Linked DNA regions of Homo sapiens. The protein of the gene in region 2 purifies or fractionates together with the protein of the main gene of each other region. This does not show direct contact. Each region holds a gene or a part of one and is shown on either strand. Other genes may lie near its edges.

Evidence for each region. Proteins that work in one complex are often made in the same cells at the same time.
Region 1: the proteins of TMA16 (region 2) and PHF3 purify together in Homo sapiens (affinity purification with mass spectrometry; 2 studies listed by BioGRID and IntAct, with this or other methods). This does not show direct contact.
Region 3: the proteins of TMA16 (region 2) and TNPO1 purify together in Homo sapiens (affinity purification with mass spectrometry; 3 studies listed by BioGRID and IntAct, with this or other methods). This does not show direct contact.

The regions. Positions count from the first base shown.
Region 1 is NC_000006.12:63,708,796-63,715,824, forward strand, and holds part of PHF3 (PHD finger protein 3), read left to right. Parts: intron 1-355; coding exon 356-445; intron 446-2,371; coding exon 2,372-2,567; intron 2,568-2,790; coding exon 2,791-4,913; 3' UTR 4,914-7,029.
Region 2 is NC_000004.12:163,504,680-163,511,708, forward strand, and holds part of TMA16 (translation machinery-associated protein 16), read left to right. Parts: intron 1-2,353; coding exon 2,354-2,466; intron 2,467-7,029. UniProt on the Homo sapiens protein: Involved in the biogenesis of the 60S ribosomal subunit in the nucleus.
Region 3 is NC_000005.10:72,889,655-72,896,683, forward strand, and holds part of TNPO1 (transportin-1), read left to right. Parts: intron 1-131; coding exon 132-303; intron 304-2,155; coding exon 2,156-2,242; intron 2,243-3,484; coding exon 3,485-3,592; intron 3,593-3,722; coding exon 3,723-3,881; intron 3,882-3,961; coding exon 3,962-4,049; intron 4,050-6,803; coding exon 6,804-6,902; intron 6,903-7,029. UniProt on the Homo sapiens protein: Functions in nuclear protein import as nuclear transport receptor. Serves as receptor for nuclear localization signals (NLS) in cargo substrates.

The DNA.
Region 1 (7,029 bases), on a different chromosome or scaffold from region 2:
AGGGGAGGTTACAATCTCTGCTAATATTCTGAAATGTGTTGTGTTCTTTCTGAATTGTTAATGTGGTATGCTTGCCATTGCTTCCCTTTCCCATCTTTCATAGTGAGATTGGGCATGAACTCAGACTCTTTCTTAGTAGCTGTATTTTAGGCAACAGTCATTTGTAGTTGGCATTTCAAGTAAAACCTAATTGCTCTCTGTATTCTGTTTTCCGATGCATTTTTCATAATCTCTTTATTTACTTGTTTTTATTACTGTTTCAAATTAGTCTTAGAATCAAATTTGTATGAATTACTAATGTCATAATAAAGATAATCTATATATATTGATCTCTTTTTTTTTTTTTTAACCATAGGACCTACCAGATAGTATTCAAGTAGGTGGCAGGATATCACCTCAGACAGTTTGGGATTATGTGGAAAAAATAAAAGCATCAGGAACCAAGGTGAGGAAAACTTTTTTCACTATACCAGCATGGGAAAATGTTTAGAAAGTAAACAGTTTAGAATTCTTATGCAAGGGTGCAAAGTCTCCTGGGGAAAGGAGGCAATACACATTTTAAGTCTATGTAATATACCTCACAAAACTGAACAAAAGCCATTTGCTGAGGCTGTCAACAGTACAGCATTTTTTTTTTTTCCTCTCCTGGGATGCTCTCTTTGTGGCTTCTGTTAATGTTTTAGAAGAAATGTTTTAGAGTAAGTATTGAAATTCACCCTGGAATTTTGCCTTGCTTCTATTACAGACAAGTGTTTGAGTTAGGGCACAGCTAAGCTATTGCAAAAAAGAGAATCTAAAATATAGTGACTCAAAAAATACAGAAGTTGATTGGAGTGTTGTCCTCAGCAGTCAAACATACCAAATAGGAGTAAATGAGGAATACCTGTCTAGTTGTTTGAAAGGCAAATTGCAGTCATTAACTTCCATTGGAAAGAACCTAGTCACATAGCCATCCATACATAGCTGCTAGGGAGGCTGGGAAATGTAATCTTTATTGGATGGCCATGTGCCCAGCTAAAAGTTAAGGGCTTCTTATTAGTAATAGGAGGAAAGGAGAAAAGATACTGCGAAATGGCTCTATCACAATAATATTTCTCCTTTTCCTTTTTCTCTCTACATTTTCTTTTCTTTTTTTAACTTATAGAATATTACTACAGAGGAAAATTTAATCATTAGAAGAAATTGTTTTTCCCTCCACGGGATGTGATAGTACCTAGTATATTAACAGTCATTCGATAAATAAATCTTGAATGAATAAATGTTACTTTTTTGCCTCTTTTTCAGAAGTCTCTAGCTTTTCTTTGGAATGATCCAAAATGGATAATCTTAAGCTGAAAAGAATATTTTGTTCCAGTATAGATTTTTAGAATTTAAATTGATACAGTGTTAAAATACAAATAAACTTTAAAGCACTAATAAAAATGAGAAGTATTACTCTTGGGCATTTTGAGAATCACTCTTGAATCCACACATATATTACTGCCCAACACTTTATAGTATGTTCCAATTTAACAGATTTAAACACTCTGTAATAGTTGTTACTAACATATGTATGGTGATTTTTACTCTAAAAGAGGGCAGTTTAGATGACACACATTTTATAAGAGAGTCATATTTCAGCTCATTCACATGTTTTCCTTAGGAGCTTGTATCAGTTTTAGGCTTTGCAGCAAATCTGGCTCTCCCATTTCGGCCATATACCATCATGAAAAAAAACATTGTTGTTGAACACTACCAAATTAATAACAAATTAGGACTGTCTTTTCTATCTGAAACAAAACCTAGAGGCAAGCAAGAAAATTCCTAAGCCAAATTACTTTACAAAATTTACGGTCTATATGTATTTAAGGTCTCTTCATCCAGCCCTTTTTATTTCTAAATTCAGTGCCTAGTAACTGGATTATTAGTAGATTTGTCTGTTTGTGTATATAAATGTATGGTAGGGTGGAAGTGTTGGGTGCTTTTAGTTCCCAGTGGTTCAAGAACATAAGCAGCCCTTTGTGGAGGTTACAGCATTGGAAATCAGGATATAGTGTAGATATTAGAAGACTTGGGTTTCAGTATCATCTCTGCCACTGACAAGTTGTATCTGTCACCTTCAAAAAAGTCATTAATCACCTTTGGACTCCATTTCTTATGTTTCCGTAAGAAATGTAAGCTATCAGATAAATCCATCAATGGATCAGTAAAGATCTTTTCTTAAGAGTTACTTGCTTTTAATATTCTCTTCTGTATTTAAGTTGGTAAACCACGTTATTTGGTACCATCATTATAAAGTTCAATAGATTATTACTAATTGAGAAATAGTTTTAAAACCAAGCTACTCTTTAGCTTATTACCTTAAACAATTATTTGTTATTTTCTTGAACAGGAAATTTGTGTGGTTCGCTTCACACCAGTAACTGAAGAAGATCAAATTTCTTATACTTTGCTCTTTGCATACTTCAGTAGCAGAAAGCGCTATGGAGTAGCTGCTAACAACATGAAGCAGGTTAAAGATATGTACCTTATTCCTTTGGGTGCCACAGATAAAATTCCACACCCTCTTGTGCCTTTTGATGGACCTGGTAGGTATACGTTTTAATAATAGGATAAGAATGAAATAACATGGGAGGTGGGACCAGAGTGAAAAGACTGATTCTGCCTTCTTTCTCAGGATCCAGCCCTCTAGAGATGGCTTGACAGGGCCAGGCACCATTTAATATCCTGTAATAAGTTAGAGGCAGAATTTTACCTTTTTTTGCAATGATTGAAAATGATGAATTAATTGATGTTTTTGGTTTTATACAGGGCTTGAACTGCATAGACCTAATCTATTGTTGGGCTTAATTATTCGTCAGAAACTGAAGCGACAGCACAGTGCCTGTGCTAGTACTAGTCATATAGCTGAGACTCCTGAAAGTGCACCACCAATAGCATTGCCACCTGATAAAAAAAGTAAAATAGAAGTTTCTACAGAAGAAGCACCAGAGGAAGAAAATGACTTTTTTAATTCTTTTACAACTGTATTACACAAGCAGAGAAATAAACCTCAGCAGAATCTTCAGGAAGACCTTCCAACAGCAGTTGAACCTTTAATGGAAGTCACCAAACAGGAGCCACCAAAACCTTTAAGATTTCTTCCTGGCGTGTTGATTGGCTGGGAGAATCAACCTACTACTCTGGAATTAGCAAATAAACCTCTTCCTGTGGATGATATACTTCAAAGCCTTTTGGGCACCACTGGTCAAGTATATGACCAGGCCCAGTCAGTGATGGAACAAAACACTGTTAAAGAAATTCCATTTTTAAATGAGCAGACCAACTCAAAAATAGAGAAAACAGATAATGTGGAAGTAACTGATGGTGAAAACAAGGAGATAAAAGTTAAAGTAGATAATATTTCAGAATCTACAGATAAGTCAGCAGAAATAGAAACATCAGTAGTAGGGTCCTCTTCCATTTCTGCAGGGTCTTTGACGAGTCTTAGTCTCAGAGGTAAGCCACCAGATGTTTCTACAGAAGCATTTTTAACAAATTTATCAATTCAGTCAAAACAAGAGGAAACTGTGGAGAGTAAAGAGAAAACATTAAAAAGACAGCTTCAGGAAGATCAAGAGAATAATTTGCAAGATAACCAGACTTCAAATAGTTCTCCATGCAGATCTAATGTAGGAAAAGGAAACATAGATGGTAATGTGAGCTGTAGTGAAAACCTTGTTGCTAATACAGCGAGGTCTCCACAGTTTATCAACCTGAAAAGGGATCCTAGGCAAGCAGCAGGACGAAGTCAGCCTGTAACTACTTCAGAAAGCAAAGATGGAGATAGTTGCCGGAATGGAGAAAAACACATGCTGCCTGGCCTGTCACACAACAAGGAGCACTTAACAGAACAAATCAATGTAGAGGAAAAGTTGTGTTCTGCAGAGAAAAACTCGTGTGTTCAGCAGAGTGACAATTTAAAAGTTGCACAAAACTCACCATCAGTAGAAAACATACAGACTTCTCAAGCAGAACAAGCAAAACCCTTACAGGAGGATATTTTAATGCAAAATATTGAAACTGTGCACCCATTTCGAAGAGGATCAGCAGTAGCGACATCTCATTTTGAAGTTGGAAACACATGTCCATCAGAATTTCCTTCTAAAAGCATCACCTTTACTTCCAGAAGCACCAGCCCCAGAACAAGTACAAACTTTTCACCCATGAGGCCACAGCAGCCCAACCTTCAGCATCTCAAGTCTAGCCCACCTGGATTTCCATTTCCAGGGCCTCCTAATTTTCCCCCACAAAGCATGTTTGGATTTCCACCACATTTGCCACCTCCATTACTTCCCCCTCCAGGCTTTGGCTTTGCTCAAAATCCCATGGTTCCCTGGCCACCTGTTGTTCATCTCCCAGGTCAGCCACAGCGTATGATGGGTCCTCTCTCACAAGCATCAAGGTATATAGGCCCGCAGAATTTTTACCAGGTTAAAGACATTCGGAGGCCAGAAAGGCGCCATAGTGACCCTTGGGGTAGGCAAGACCAACAGCAACTGGATAGGCCATTTAATAGGGGTAAAGGGGACCGCCAGAGATTTTATAGTGATTCACACCATTTGAAAAGAGAGCGACATGAAAAGGAATGGGAGCAAGAATCTGAAAGGCATAGACGCAGAGACAGAAGCCAAGACAAGGACAGAGACAGAAAAAGCAGGGAGGAAGGGCACAAAGATAAAGAGAGGGCACGGTTATCACATGGTGATCGAGGAACAGATGGAAAAGCAAGCAGAGATAGTAGGAATGTAGACAAGAAGCCAGATAAACCTAAAAGTGAAGACTATGAGAAGGACAAAGAACGAGAGAAAAGTAAACACAGAGAAGGAGAAAAGGACAGGGATAGGTACCACAAAGATAGGGACCACACTGACAGAACTAAAAGCAAAAGGTAAAATTTGCAGGCTGCTTCAGGATTACATTTAAATAACTGTTAAAATGTTGTATCTTGTAAACAAAAGAAAGATTGCCTGCTAGGATTGTGCCATCTTTAAAATTTTTACTATTGGTCATTTGCAGAACAGTAAATTCTGTGTGTTGGTACAGAGTGCTCTGTACCAGTGCTCATCATCCCTTCTTCATACCAACGGTCCCTAGTTATAGGAATTTAATATTTTTAAAAGTTTTACATTGCTGTATATTCAAAGATTTGTTTTATTAATATGCAATAAAGGCTTAGAAATTTTAGTTTTATTCCTTAATTGGTAAATATGGTTAACTATGGAATATATTTACTTCCTCTAGTGAATGTCCTTTATATAATGACTAATTTGGGAGTAATGTGTGCTCTGTAAGTTTGTTTTAAATTGCACTGTTTTTAAAGAAACTGTAGAGGAGCAACAAAAATCCAAGCAACTTCATAATCAGATTATGCTAATCATTTAGTTGAGCAGTTTTTGACCAAGAATCAGAAGCCCAAGGGGTACATTTATTGCTTTAATCTGCACTCATTGAAGTCATTTATTACCATATACTACAGCTTTGTGGTAGGCCATTATTTTCATTTTCATTTTTGGCTCTTCAGAAACTTGAATACTTAAGCTTGTACATGATCTTGTGTTTTGCTATCCTTTTTACTGTAAAATGTAAATATTTTAAGGGATATTTTGATTCTAAATATGATAAAATAATTTCTCACCTATTTTGTGTGTGTGACTTGAAATTCAGTAGTAAAAGAATTTCTTCTTTAAAGCTTTAATTACCTTCAGACATTGATTTTTTGTTACTCAGCCAAGAACATATAGAAATAGCTATCTATGTCAGGCATTAGATGAGGGGAAAAACAATTTTTTTAAAATCTTAAATTGTAGGCTGAGATGAATTGTGTAGTTCTAAAGAGGCTAGAATTTAGAACTACCTGTGAAACACTGTGCAGCTATAGCCCACTTTATAGGTAAGTTTCTGAAAACTTTTACACCATCGCAATTTGGTACTCTGACTCACTAATCATTAAAATTAAAGACCGCAGAACTTGAAGAGAAATATGTTTTGAATCCTTTTATAAAATGTGCGATTTAGCCTAATTCGTAAAGTAACTGTACAGTTTCATATGCCAGTTTTACTTGAAAAAAAAATATGAAAACTATTGTTAATTCAAATCTAAATTTATTTAAACCCTAAAACACATGGTTTTGATGGCTGTAATTTAAAGTAAGAGCTATCAAATGATGCTGACAAAAGAAAAACCTTCCAAAATACAAAAGAAAGAGAACTCTATTATTTACTTACCTGTATTAATGAAGAAAAATATAAATAATTCCACAAAATTGATTGTTTTCCTAAAGAGCTTAAAGATTAGAGTTAAAAATTGGTTTTGAAACAGAATTATCCTTGTTATTTTTGCTGGAGAGAAGGGAGGAAATTCAGAACCAAACATTCTATTTAATTTGCAATGACTTGCAGTACTTTTTTCCCTATCCTTATCCTGTGAAACTTACTATCATAAGGTTCTAAAACAGAGAACTTGTGTTTAAATAAAGCCCGTTTAACTTTGGTCCACTTTTCTTTTGGAAATTAACTTGTTAGAAAACAAAGTTAGTTCCCAAACAAAACAAAATCTAAGTTATAATTTGCACCATTACAAAGAAATTGCTGTCAGGGTTTTACACATTTTAAAAACATTTCAATTTCAAATGTGTATATCGTCAATAAATCTACCTTTACTGATATATCTGGTTGAGGGAATATCAGACTCCAGATTTCTTTTGCAAGATGAAAGTAAAAACGAGTGGGTTAATGAATGAAAACAAGCTTTTAGGTCAGTTTTTGATCACCTCTTCGCTAATAGTTTTTTCTACATATCTAAAATTCTTTAATCAGTTCTGATCGAATCTTGATACATGTTTTTAAAATAGGCAAGGCCCATATAGCTTTCTATTAGGGATGAGCATCTCCAGGGGTTAGAGGCAGATCTTGTAACCGCTGATTGACTGAAACATTTTATGGAGAATAGGGAAGGTATGGTCATATTAGCTATTTGAGGTTTTCCTTTTGAGGAAAAAAAGGGAAAAT
Region 2 (7,029 bases):
TAGAGATGGAGTTTTGCTATGTTGGCCAGGCTGGACTTGAACTCCAGGCCACAAGTGATTCCACCTGCCTCAGCCTCCCAGAGTGCTGGGATTACAGGCATGAGCCACCATGCTTGGCTGAGGATCTGCCTCTAAGCTTGCTGTTGGTAGGATTGTTAAGCTGGTTCTTGGTAGGATTCAGCTCCTCGTGGACTGTTGAACTGCAGGCCTCACTTCTTCACTAGCTGTTGTCTGGAGGCCTCCCTCAGTTATTTGTCATGTGGCCCCTCCATATGGCAGCTCACTACAGGACAGCTGGTTTCCATGAGAGGGGGAAAGATGGAAGCCAGACTTCTTTGATAACCTAATCTCAGAATTGGCATTTCATTGCTTTTGCTAAATGCTCTTCATTAAAAGTGAGTCGGTAGGTCCAGCCCACATTCAAAAGGAGGGGATTCCATAAGGGCATGAGGATCAGGAGGTGGGGTTTATTGGGTCCATCTTAGAGGCAGCCTGCCAAATGTCCTGAAAGTTTTTACTTGATTCATGTTTGCTAGGTACTTTAATCTCAAAAATTCCTCATTACACCTGCCTTTCTCCTCTGCACTTGCCATGTGAGCAGAGAGATACATAAAAGAGTACATATACTCTTATATGATGGTTCTACATATTTTCCTATACCTGTAACCAACTTCCAGTGATACCTTAAGATTCAGATGTGGATATATCTTCTCAGGTTTATCAGAAAGCGAGCAGAGCGCTCAATGAGTGTTGAAAGAATGAATATATTTGTGAATGAGGAATTTGTGGTTATTTTAAATAGTTCTGCCTAGTTTTACAAAGGAAGTAATTTTGAACTGCATCTTATCAAAGGGCAAGTAAAGTATTTTGCAGGCAGAGGTAATAACAAGTGCAGTCTCAAGAAGTTATGAAATAGCTTGGTATGTTCTGGAATGGTGAGAAGTTCAGTAAGAATGGCGTGAAGAATCTTTTATAGAGGAGCATGGGAAATAATGGTGGAGAAGCAGGTTGGGGCTAGATTGTTTCTGTGCTAAAGACTTGGGACCTAACTGTGAGCTAGTAGAGCACTTTAAGCAGGGGAGAGGGACTTTACTATATTAGTGTTTTATGAAGACAAGCTCTGTAGCTTTGCCGAAGAAAGGACTAGTGGGGAGAATCTAAAGACTATCCTGATTATGAAAGATTCTGAGGATTGAATTAAGCAATTGACAATAATTTTGAAGAAGAGTGTAAAGCCACTTGGCCTTTTTCTGGAATAGGTATGTTGGAGACTGCCAGCTGTCCCCTAATGTATTCTTTCTGTTTTTCTATATGAATGGATCTTTTTCTCACAGAATAAGGATTATATTTACTACTCTCCCTTATGTAACACTGTGAATAAATTTTGGTCAGTGGGATGTGAGCAAAAGGATCTGCAACTTCCCAGGTCATGCTCTTAAAAAAAGGGGATGTACCTTCAGATTTTTCTTTTCCTACTTCATACTGGCTTGAGTGTAGACCTGGTATTAGGCTGTCTTGAACTAGATAGGAGGTATAGCCTGAGGCTAGTAGACAAAAAAATGGAAGGATCCTGGATCCCTAAGGGCTTTGTGGAACAGAACCTTCAGCTCCTACTTTTAACAATAAAGAACCAAACTTAAGCTGGGTTATGCCATTATTTGGGGTTTTTATTACAGAGAGCCAAATATGATTCCTAGATCATTATAGGTGAGGTAAGATACAGGATTATGTAGGAATAAAAGAAACCTGAGATGTCTAGTTTGGAGGACCTAATGAATTGTGGGCTGATTAACTGGCATAAGGCTTCAGTGGGAAAATGATACATTTTTCCTTTTGGATATACTAATTTTGAGATGGCTTCTATTATTTTCTCTATTCCTAATTTGTACAGGCAATGAGCCCAGCTTTGATTTTGCATGATTCATTGCCCGCTTTGTTCCATGTGAAACATCTACAATCAAGCCCCTACTAATAATCCAAGTCCCTTCTGACCCCTTAATTTTCTTAACTGTAACAAATTTCTGGCTGTGAGTCTCCTCACTATCTGTAGTCCCTGTATCTTCTTTGAAGATAGAACATGTTGTTGAAGAGCTGAGTTTATTGACTCCTTCTGTGCCTTTCTTCTGTCATTGGAGAGCACCTCTGAATATATCGTTTCTGTCATTACCATGGCAACAGATTATTAGAATTATTTAATGATCCTGGCTTATCTCCTGATTTTTCTTGTAATAGTTTTAGCTTACTGTATTTCTGTCATATTACTGTTTTTAAAATTTATTTGTAAAGAATATTTTTGGGACTGAAGGCACTTACATATCTGACTATATGTGTCATGTGTTTTCATACATTTTAGCCCAAAGCACCAAAGGGAAAAAGTGCAGGACGGGAAAAAAAAGTCATCCATCCATATAGTAGAAAAGCAGCTCAAATTACGAGAGAGGCCCACAAACAAGAAAAAAAGGAAAAGTAAGTATCTTTTCATCATTTGTATTACTCGTTGGTAAAAAGCCCCTTTATACTTTTATCTTTCAAACATATATCCTTTCACAGTATTGTCTCCCTTTCATAAATATTTATTAAGTGTGTTCTGTATGCAGAGGGTGAAACTGAACAAGGACTCTACTCTTTTAGAGCTTACCTAAAACAGATAAGTAATTTATGTAGCAGTAGGTGATGAGTGCCATGAAAAATTTAAAAAGTTATGGGATGGACAGTGAGGGAGAAGTTGTTTTACGTGGGATAGTCATGGAAGCCTTCTCTGAAGAAGTTACATTTGAACAGAGAGTTGAAAAATGTGAGGTCTGTATATAAGGCATGTAGGTTAAAGTGCCCATGAGACATGTAAGAGGAGATATGGAATGGATAGTTAGATATGTTGAGTCTAGTGTTCAGAGAATAGGTTAGGGGTATTGACACAAATTTGGGAGCGATCAGCATCCATGTGGGATTTCAAGCCGTGAGACTGGATAGGATCAGTTCACCTAAGGAGTAACTGTTGACAGGAAAGAGAAGAGAGCCAATTACTGAGTTCAGTGGCCCTCTACCATTTAGAGGTTAGGAAAAGAAGGAGCATTCCACAAGTGAGACTGAGAAGGAGGAGAAAGAAGGCTGTTTCAAAGATTCCTTAAAATGAAGTGAAGTTCAAATAAACATCATCGTTTTGACTATTTTAGAATGCCCTTGCCATTTTCATGAATGTTAGATACATTTGCATACCAGATAATGGAAGCCAGTATATTTTTAAATGTTGATTCTTTGCTTAAGATAAGCTTTATATAGTAAAGGTTACCTGTTTCACAGTGATTTGGCTAGAAGGAAATAAGTGTTGTGATAGCAGAGTCAAATTTTCTTTATTTTCTGCAGGGTAGTTTTTTATTTTTTTCAACATAAAGATTTACTGTGATGATAGCAGTTTTGCTTTAGCACAGTAGTTTTCAAACTTCAGCTATTTATGCATCACTTTTATGATTTTTGCTGTATCTTTTTAATATGATTTATTAGTACTGTGATTTTGCAGTTTCTGCTCTCATATATATCAGTATTTTGCAAACTTAAGTACATGAAATACATCTGTAGAACTTATTAAAACTGTTTGTTCCAACCCCTAGAATTTTCTATTCTGAAGGTTTGGGTTTCTGGCTTAAGGGTTTCCACTTCCAACAAGTCTCCAGGTAATGCTGGTGCTGTTGCTGCTGGTTTAGGGACCACACTATGAGAATCACTGACCTATACTATTATTTATTTTCCCTTAAGTACCATTTTTTAAAAAGGAGATATTTTTTCTCTCTTAAAATCAAATAGATACTATTACCTGCTGTAAATGGTCTGAGGCTGAGACATAACTTTTGTATATGTTTGGTGAAAAGATCTGGTGAAGGTTGGAAGACTGGTAAAACAAACCCACACTTTTGTCCTTAATGTAAAGTGAAAGGATCAAAAGAAAATGGAGGAAGGGGAAGCAACGTGCTTACCATTTTATTAAAGATTGTTTAATTCTGTGTCTATGAACTGCTTACCTTACATATAGTACCAGTGGTATGATATGCAATATTTTAGCAAGTAACTGCTTTAGAATATGATTAAGTACTTGGTTCACTGTCATTGTGACCGTGAGCCTACAATGTTTGTATGTTGTCAGGTATATTCAGCATGTTGTGTATTGATTTACAGAATTAGCGTTATAGAAAAATTATGGAAGAATAAAACAGAACAACATGCTAATCTGATATGTATATATTGTCCTAAGAAAATTCTGTTTATTGGCCAAGACTTTTATTTTAGTAATGCAGAGTAGAAAGCACTTAATTTTTCTGCTTAGACAATGTTCTAAATAGATTGGATTTTTTCCCTTTTTAAAATTTATTTTCAAAAAGTCACTCTCTTAGTAGTCATGGCTCTAGAACCAAATATACAATTTTAATAGTACTTAACATTATTTTATGTTATGAAATCATAGGCTTAGGCCACTATAGATGTCAGTTTTTTGAGTAGCAGCATCAGTAACCACGAGTCATACTTAACTTTAAATGGGAATGTGGTCACAAAAGGCACGTTGAAACGCTGCTGATTCCCTGCCCCATTTCAAAAGATGATTGGTGACAAGATACCCAGATGGTTGGGACAACTTTAAGCAAGGTGATTGAAGAAGGTACCAACAGGACAACTTGAACTTGGGTACCTGTGGCTTCTTAGAAATGAATAGCAGTTACCAGATGTTGTTTTAGTAACTGTTGCTGCATAAGAAATTCTGCTACAATTTAGCAGCTTAAAACAAACACAGTTTCTGGATCAGGTAGGAATCCCGTTGCCACTTAACTGGGTGTTTCTGACCCAGCATCTTTCACAAGCCTGCAGCTAAGCTGTTGTCTGGGACTGCATTCATCTCAGAGCTTGCTAGGGAGAATTTCTGCTTCCAAGCTTCCTCACATGGCTGTTGGCAGACCTCAGAAAAGATACTGTAGGAGTGGATAACAATGCTAGAGTAAAAGTTCAAGCATATTCTTTATCTTCAACATTTGAAAAGCTCTGATTTAGGACTGTATGACAGGAACTAGGATGGTTTGAAGACTAGCACATTCCCGACAATGAACAATTTACAAGCAGCAAGTGGCTCTTTGATATGATGTGATTTTTGTTTTATGATTTCACAGTATAGCAACATTTTGGCAAATAATTCTAGATAGCAAATGAAAATGACTCCTAATGGAAGATTAACAAAGGAAACTAAGCATGATGGGTAAGAATCTCAGAAACAACTACCTTTGAGAATTAATCTTATTGATTCTCTTTAAAACTCATGTTTACATATTGTTTTAAGAATTTTTTCATATTTACATGCAAGTACTGTTTTAAATAATTCTCACATCTCTCTACTTTTCTTCATTCCAGCTGATACCACTGTAAGTTCAGGTTCCCACTGAGTCCATTCAGAATTATTGCAACTTGACTTCTAACTAGATTCTTCCCTCCAGCCTTATTTAAAAGGAAGAAATTCCCCTCAGAGCCATTCTCCAACTTTTTATGAAGTGTTCTTTGTTTTTTAAGATCAACTTTGGGGTATAATTAATATATAATAAAGCGAACACATTTTAAGTGTAGTTTTTGGGTTTTGACAATTGTATACATTGGTGTAGCCACCCTGATCAGTATGTAGTATACAATTTCATCTTCCTAGAAAATTCCCTTGTGTATCTTCCCAGTCAGTCCTCACCCTCTACCCCTAGCCTCGGGCAGCCACTAATTTGCTCTTTATTTTGATAGGTGAGATTTATCTTTCTAATGTTTAATATAAATGGGATCATGCTGTATGTGGTTTTTTGTGCCAGCGTCTTTCACGTAGCATAATGTTTGAGAGACTTATCCATGTCATTTTATGTATTAGTTGTTCTTTCCTTTTATTGGGAGTATTATTCCATCCTCAGGCAATTTATTTATATCCATTCACTGGATATGCACCTTGCTTATCCATTCACTGTCTATGTTCGTTTGGTTATATTTTCATTTTTGGCTGTTATCAGAGGTCGGCAAGCTAAGGCATTAGCCACCTGTTATTACGAAAAGTTTTGTTGGAAAACATCAATGCTGGTTCCTTTTGTGTTTTCTATAGCTGCATTCATGCTGCAGTGGCAGAGCTGAGTAATTGTTACAGGTACACAGCCCCCAAAGCCTAAAATGTGACTACTTGACCATTGAAGAAAATATTGTCAACCTCTGCTGTTAGGAATAAAGTTCATTCCTGTAAAACATTCATGTACAGGTGTTTGTGTGGACATACGTTTTCATTTTTCTTTTACTTCCTAGAACTATAATTGTTGGGTAGATGTTTGAGTTTATAAGAAATTCAGTTTATAAGACGTTAGGTTAACACACTTAAGATGTTTGCTTAAGTATATGAGAATTTGGGTATATAAGAATTGCTGGATCATTTGGTGTATATTTAAGTATATATGAAATTACCTTTCTCAAAGTGATAGTACCATTTTACATTTTCACCACCAGAGTATGAGAGTTCTATTTGCTGTATATCCTCTTTGACATGTTATGTTGTCAGGGTTTTTTTTTTCTCTTTAATTTTAGCCAATCTAGTAGGTGTATAGTGGTATTTCAGTGTGGTTTTAATTTTCATTTCTTGATGACTAATGATGTTGAGCATCTTTTTAGGTTCTTTTTGGTCATTTGTGTTTTCTTGATGGAGAATCTGTCCGAATCTTTTGCCTTTTTGGTACTGGGTTAATCTGTTGTTAAGTAGTAAGGACTGTTTATATATTCTAGATACAAGTCCTTTGTTATTTGTGTTATGAATATTTTCTCCTAATCTGTAACTTAAAAATTTTATATAAAGAAGGTTTTGGCCTAGTATGGTGGCTCATCCTTGTAATCCCAGTGCTTTGGGAGGCCAAGGTGAGAGGACCGCTTGAGGCCAGGAGTTTGAGACGAGCCTGGGTGACACAGTGAGACTCTGTCTCTACAAAAATAAAAGTAAAAAAAAAAAAAAAAGTAGCCAGGCATGGTGGTATATAACAGTAGTCC
Region 3 (7,029 bases), on a different chromosome or scaffold from region 2:
TTCATTAACAGATGGCTTAGACCATTTTAGGAAATTCCTGATTGGGTAAAACAGAACATAAACATTTTAGCAATTAAGAGTTAGATATATCTTACAGTCAATAAGTATTCTTTTTTTTTTTTTTTAAACAGTGCCTTTGCTACCCTAGAAGAGGAGGCTTGTACAGAACTTGTTCCTTACCTTGCTTATATACTTGATACCCTGGTCTTTGCATTTAGTAAATACCAGCATAAGAACCTGCTCATTCTTTACGATGCCATAGGAACATTAGCAGATTCAGTAGGACATCATTTAAACAAACCAGTAAGTATCTGTTAAGAACTATTAGGGAAAATAATGTGTAGCATAGTTACAATTAATAGATTAGCATATATTTGGAAATTAAGATGTTTTGGGAGATGTGAATAGTTAGCGTTAGCTACTTTAAGAGTATAGATCTTACAAAGGCAGCAAGTATATCCCCTTTCATGTGGTATTCTTAAAGTAAATACATACTTGGTGTGGAAACTACAGCAGCATTTCACATGAATGCTCTGATACTTTTTAGAATGACTAAAGCAAAGGGATAAAAAAGTTTTTATAATCTGGATATCTGCTTTTACTTAATTCCTAATGTTTTTGAATCTACCACTTCATAAACACTGTAGCTTTAGAGTACCATATCTAGACATCTTTGTTTTTTCAGCAGGTACGGGGAGTATACTGTATAAAACAAATAGAAATTGGGGTAGTAGGTTTAAAAATGCTAAATAGTAATGCAAAAGTGCCTTGTTTCCAGTAGTGTTAGTAGAAGAGGAGGATGGATTTGTCTAATGAGGATTTAAGTGATAGTAGAATTTTAATATAGCTCCACATACCCTGCTGAATAGACTTCTATATGATTGCTATATCCAAAGTCTTAAGAAATTGTTTTATTTTTAAGTTACACTTAAGATTTGGTACAGGGCAGTTTATAGGTTTGCTTTGCTGTTGGTTGTTTGGTTTGGCTTTTGTGGGGGTTTGTTTTCTGAATGTCTTTAGAGTCTGTGCCCCTGTTTACATGATCACTATGTTTAGTCGTTTTATGGATCATTCTTTAGTTTGACACTTAAATGATTTTAAGTTTGTTTTTCTACAAAAGCATCTGTGTAAGTTTACCTGTTGATTTAAAAATGTACTATATAGTAACAGCCATATTACACGTTACAGTTCCATGACTAAAAGGAATTTTTTTGTGTGTGACAAGGTCTCACTCTGTCACCTAGGCTAGAGTGCAGTGGTGTGATCACAGCTCATTGCAACCTCCACCTCCCGGGCTCAAGCGATCCTCCCATTTCAGCCTCCCCTGTAGCTGAGACCACAGGCGTGTACCACCATTCCTGGCCAACTTTTTGTAGAGATAGTTTTGCCATGTTGCCCAGGCTGGCCCAAACTCCTGGGTTCAAGTGATCTGCCTGCCTCAGCCTCTCAAAGTGCTGGAATTACAGGTGTGAGCCACCATGCCCAGCCCCAGAACTAAAAATATTCTGTAACTTAAAGAGAAAAACTTAGGTCTGGGCACAGTGGCTCACACCTGTAATCCCAGCACTTTGGGAGGCTGAGGTGGGCAGATCAAAAGGTCAGGAGATCGACACCATCCTGGCTAACACGGTGAAACCCTGTCTCTTTAAAACTACAAAAAATTAGCCGGGTGTGGTGGGGGGTGCCTGTAGTCCCAGCTACTCGGGAGGCTGAGGCAGGAGAATGGCGTGGACCTGGGAGGCGGAGCTTGCAGTGAGCTGAGATCACGCCGCTGCACTCTAGCCTGGACGACAGAGCAAGACTCCGTCTCAAAAAAAAGAGAAAAACTTAGATCTTCCTTGATTGTGACTTTTTTAAGTAATAGATTTTGATTAGCTGTGTGTTTATTGATAGACTCTTTTTTTCAACAAGGATAAAAGATCAGTAGATCACTAGTTCTAGATCTAAAACTAGAACACGGTCATGTAAGTATAAAGGTAGGCAACAGAAAGGAAAACTTTAAAAGGGACTGTGCAGAGTGAAGAATGACTCTTAAAATGCCTTTTGTAATGATTTTACACAATTGCTCAAAATGGATTTTAATTTTCAAAGACTCAAAATGGTCTTGTTGACATGTGATAGTGGAATTTTATATGTTTTTCATCATTGTAAATAGGAATATATTCAGATGCTAATGCCTCCACTGATCCAGAAATGGAACATGTTAAAGGATGAAGATAAAGATCTCTTCCCTTTACTTGAGGTATGCAGGGCTAGTAATATTTAATCTGTTGCCAAGAACACATGTTCAAATCCAAAATGGGTATATATGATAAGAAAAGTGTTAATAAATTTATATTCTGAAGTAGACGGAGGAAATTATATGATACATACTGTTCTCTAACCTGCTTTACTTAATTGATAATAAATTAGAGTTTTAAGTTCTCTTATGTTATCTACTCTCTATATAGAGTAGATAGCATACTACTCTATATAGTATAGAGTAGATAACATACTGGGAGGATATATATACCGGGATATATATATATATCTTTTCACTCATACATATATGTTGAGTAGTGGGATTTGGTGCCAGTAAGGAGGTACTTATTTTCAAATTTGAAAATGTTTCCATGTGTACTTAACTACTTTTTTTTTTAACACCCCTTTCATTGCAAACTTTTATATGATGTTCTCGTAACTGAACACACTGTGAAATGTAGTCACTTAAACTTAGTTGAATTGACATTGATAGAACCAGTTCAGGCCTTTTCATTCTTGCTCCCTGTTATTTCAAGGTTCACCATCTTCTACCGTGGATTGTTCTTAGCCAAAGAAGTTAAATTTTCTATGACCAAGAGCAATTCTGGGCCCAGCAAAACAAGAAGAATCATTATGGTTCATTTTTTGTATGCAGTCGTCCCTCAGTATCTGCAGGGGATTGTTTCCAGGACTCCCCTTGGATACAGAAATCCAGCGATGCTCAAGTCCCTTATATAAAATGATGTGGTATTTGCATATGGCCTATGCACCTCCTCCCAATATACTTTAAATCATTTTAATTGTTTTTCTAAATACTTTTGATTCAAGATTGGTTGAATCCATAGATACAGAGGGCCAACTGTATATATATTACTTTCCGGCAGGATCTCAGAATGTGCCCAGTAAAGTCCATTCACAACATTGACCAGGATGGGAGCATGAAATGAATCTCTTCAATTTGAGGGAAAAATATGAACACATAATACTCAATCTGTCCTTTAAAGATAATGTTTCTTGTAGAAACGCTTCCTCTGAGTAAACCTGACCTGATTGGCTGGCAAACTAACAACAATGAATGGCTTCCAAAAGAGAGGGTTGGGGTGGGGGGAGGGGAACCTGCTACTGTAGAAACTAGTAGAGCAAGCTCATAAATGATCAGGATCCTGTTGAGCGCAGTTTCAAGCATTCATCATAATCTTCAGTATACCCAGAAAGTTTAGCATGTGTACTTTATTCTTCCTAGTGCCTATCTTCAGTTGCCACAGCACTGCAGTCTGGATTCCTTCCGTACTGTGAACCTGTGTATCAGCGTTGTGTAAACCTAGTACAGAAGACTCTTGCACAAGCCATGGTAATTTTTTTAAAATGTCTTCCTCTTCTTGACATGGTGGACATTTTTCTAAAGATAGGTATAATGTATACAGACTTTTTAAGTAGTTAATTAAAACCAAACTTACAAAAAACATTGTGTCTAATTTCAGCTAAACAATGCTCAACCAGATCAATATGAAGCTCCAGATAAAGATTTTATGATAGTGGCTCTTGATTTACTGAGTGGCCTGGCTGAAGGACTTGGAGGCAACATTGAACAGCTGGTAGCCCGAAGTAACATCCTGACACTAATGTATCAGTGCATGCAGGTGAGACTTGAAAGGTGAAAATGAATTGAAGCCTGTTTCTCTGTGTCACATTGGGGTTAATTTCTTCTTATTTCTTGTAGGATAAAATGCCAGAAGTTCGACAGAGTTCTTTTGCCCTGTTAGGTGACCTCACAAAAGCTTGCTTTCAGCATGTTAAGCCTTGTATAGGTATGAATATTTTCTACTGCTATGAATATGGTTTTTTAAAGTTAACATTTACATCAGCTTTGTTTTTTTATTATTAAACTGAAATTGCATGGAATCCCAACATTTATAAATGTACACTTTATTGGTTAAAGTAAACTTGCTGTGATTGAAACAGGCAAGATGGCAGGAACCCCTAATATTTCCTTGAGCTTGCCATCATCTCAGCTTTTTAGGTACTCCTGTGACTGGAGGAAAGCTTAGTAATATACTTTAGAGTAAAGGACATGCCCACCAGGGAAGCCTTGGTACCATGGACTAGTTAATAGATTCTTTTTTGAGTAGCCACCTTTTTGGTAGAGGTACACAGAAATAGTAATAATCAGGTTTTCTTCTCTAGCAAACCAGCATACTTTTTCAGATATTGCAGAAAACTTCCAACAAATGTCACTTTAACTGAGACTGGGCCTGGGGGCTCACACCTGTAATGCCAGCACTTTGGGAAGCCAAGGCAGGCAGATCACTTGAGGTCAGGAGTGCGAGATTCGAGACTAGCATAGCATTTGTCTTGGCCTTCTGTGACAATGATAAGAAATTCCTTGAATGTTGTACCCGGAATTGTTCTTAAACCTATGGGTTATAAATGAGTTATGGGATTTTTTTCCCCCTTTTCTGCATCTCAGCATGTTGGGTAACAATTATTTTAATACAGCCGGGCACGGCGGCTCAGACCTGTAATGCCAGCACTTTGGAAGGCCAAGGCGGGCAGGTCACGAAGTCAGGAGATCAAGACCATCCTGGCTAACACGGTGAAACCCCGCTTCTACTAAAAATACAAAAACTTAGCCAGGCGTGGTGGCTTGTGCCTGTAGTTCTAGCTACTTGGGAAACTGAGGCAGGAAAATCGCTTGAACCCGGGAGGCAGAGTCTGCAGTGAGCTGATACTGTACCACTACACTCCAGCCTGGGCAACAGAGCAAGACTCCGTCTCAAAAAAAATTATTTTAATACTTCATTTAAACCTTAATTTAAAATATTAATTGAATGTTTTGTCATCTGATATAATTGTGCTTTTGGATAACCATTTCTCAAAAAACTAACATAATTAACATTAATTATGATATATTAAGAACCATCAAGTTTAAACCTAACAGTGTAATGAATTCTTATGGGAAGCTTATCATTCTCATATTTACCACCTAATTTAGTTTTTTAGTTGAAACTTATATGAAAGGATTTAATTTTTTTATTATAAAGTGTTTAAGACGTACAAAAGTAGAAAAAATGTAACAAACCTCCTATCACCCAGCTTCAACTGTCCAGTCCTGTTTCCTATATACTGTTGTCAGTGGTGAGACACATAGATCTCAGATATTTTGGAGCAAATCTCAAACACAGCATTTGAAGTCTTAATATTTTAGTACATACTATACTATCTCTTCTTACAATTGTTTTTTGTTAAAGAAACCATGTTTTTTATTCTAAAGAGTTTCCTTTACTGTGGATTTTACTGATTGCATCTTTGTTGTCTTTAACATGTTCCTCTGTCCGTTGTATTTACTGTAAATTGTTTGGATACAGAGACTGAGGTTTAATGAGATTTACGTTGTTTTGTTTTTAAGACTTTATAGATGGTATTGTGTACTTAGTGTACATAGTGTCTAGTTGTCCCTCCTTTTTTTTTTTTTAATGTTACCAATCTTGATGATTGTCTCAATTAGTGGTTCTCAACTAGGGGCAATTTTGCCATTCGGGGAACATTTGCCAGTGTCTGGAGACATTTTGTTTGATGCTGGAGAGGTGCCATTGATGTCTAGTGGGTAGAAGCAAAGGATGTTGCTAAACATCTTATAATACAGGAGACAGCTCCCCTTCCCCCCAACAAAAAAATGATCTGGCCCAAACTGTCAATATTGCTGAGATCAAGAAACCCTGGCTTACATCTCCTGATTTATTAGGAGTTTAAAAAATTATGATATTCTAATTCTTCATTTAATAATGAAGATACTTATATAGGGAGACATTTCCCATATCAATAAATTACTATCCTGAGGTAAAATCATATAGCAGAGGCAAGATAAATACTTGATTCTTTTTTTTATTTACCAATTTTCAAAATAATGAATTGATTCCTATCATCCTCCAAAGGTATCTTTGATGTTTCAGAGTTTTGTTTTTGTTTGATTGTTTTTAGTGCTAGTGTGACTTCATGATGTTCAAGCTGTTGTACTGCTTGCAGTGAGAACTTAAGTTGGCTCCCGAGTCCTTTCATTATGACAAGATAGTCCACTTATTTTGCACATTTCCTGCCTTTGCCTGTAATGTGACGTTTTCTGAGAGTCCATTTTTTTTTAGTGGAAAATGTTATTCAGAGACCACAATCAGAGCACAAGAGTGAAAATTGCTTTAAAAGCCAAAATCATTGATTTTTTTTTTTTAGTCTAATTACAAGAGATTACTCTGACCAACTCTTTTTAGTGGTATGTAAAATATACCCAAACTTGTATTTCCTGTTCCACATTATTTGAAAGTTCATTGGCCAGATACTGTTTTCTTCAGTTTCTTAAGATAAACATTACCAACTCCTTTAAAAAATATTTTTAAATACAGTTGCCTAGTTTATTTCCACCAATTTTAAAATTGATGTTGCAGTAATTTTTTTAATGGTGAAACTTGTTATTTCTTGCTTAGATTTCTGTTTCCACCTAGTAGATTTCCTTTAAAGTACAATATACTGCTATTGAAAAGTTTACTACATAGTTTAAATTTTTTTTCTAGCTGATTTCATGCCAATATTGGGAACCAACCTAAATCCAGAATTCATTTCAGTCTGCAACAATGCCACATGGGCAATTGGAGAAATCTCCATTCAAATGGGTAAGATGTTTTTCCCTATTTAAAAGCATAAGGCCTGGCGCGGTGGCTCACGCCTGTAATCCCAGCACTTCGGGAGGCTGAGGCGGGCAGATCACCTGAGGTCAGGAGTTTGAGACCAGCCTGGTTG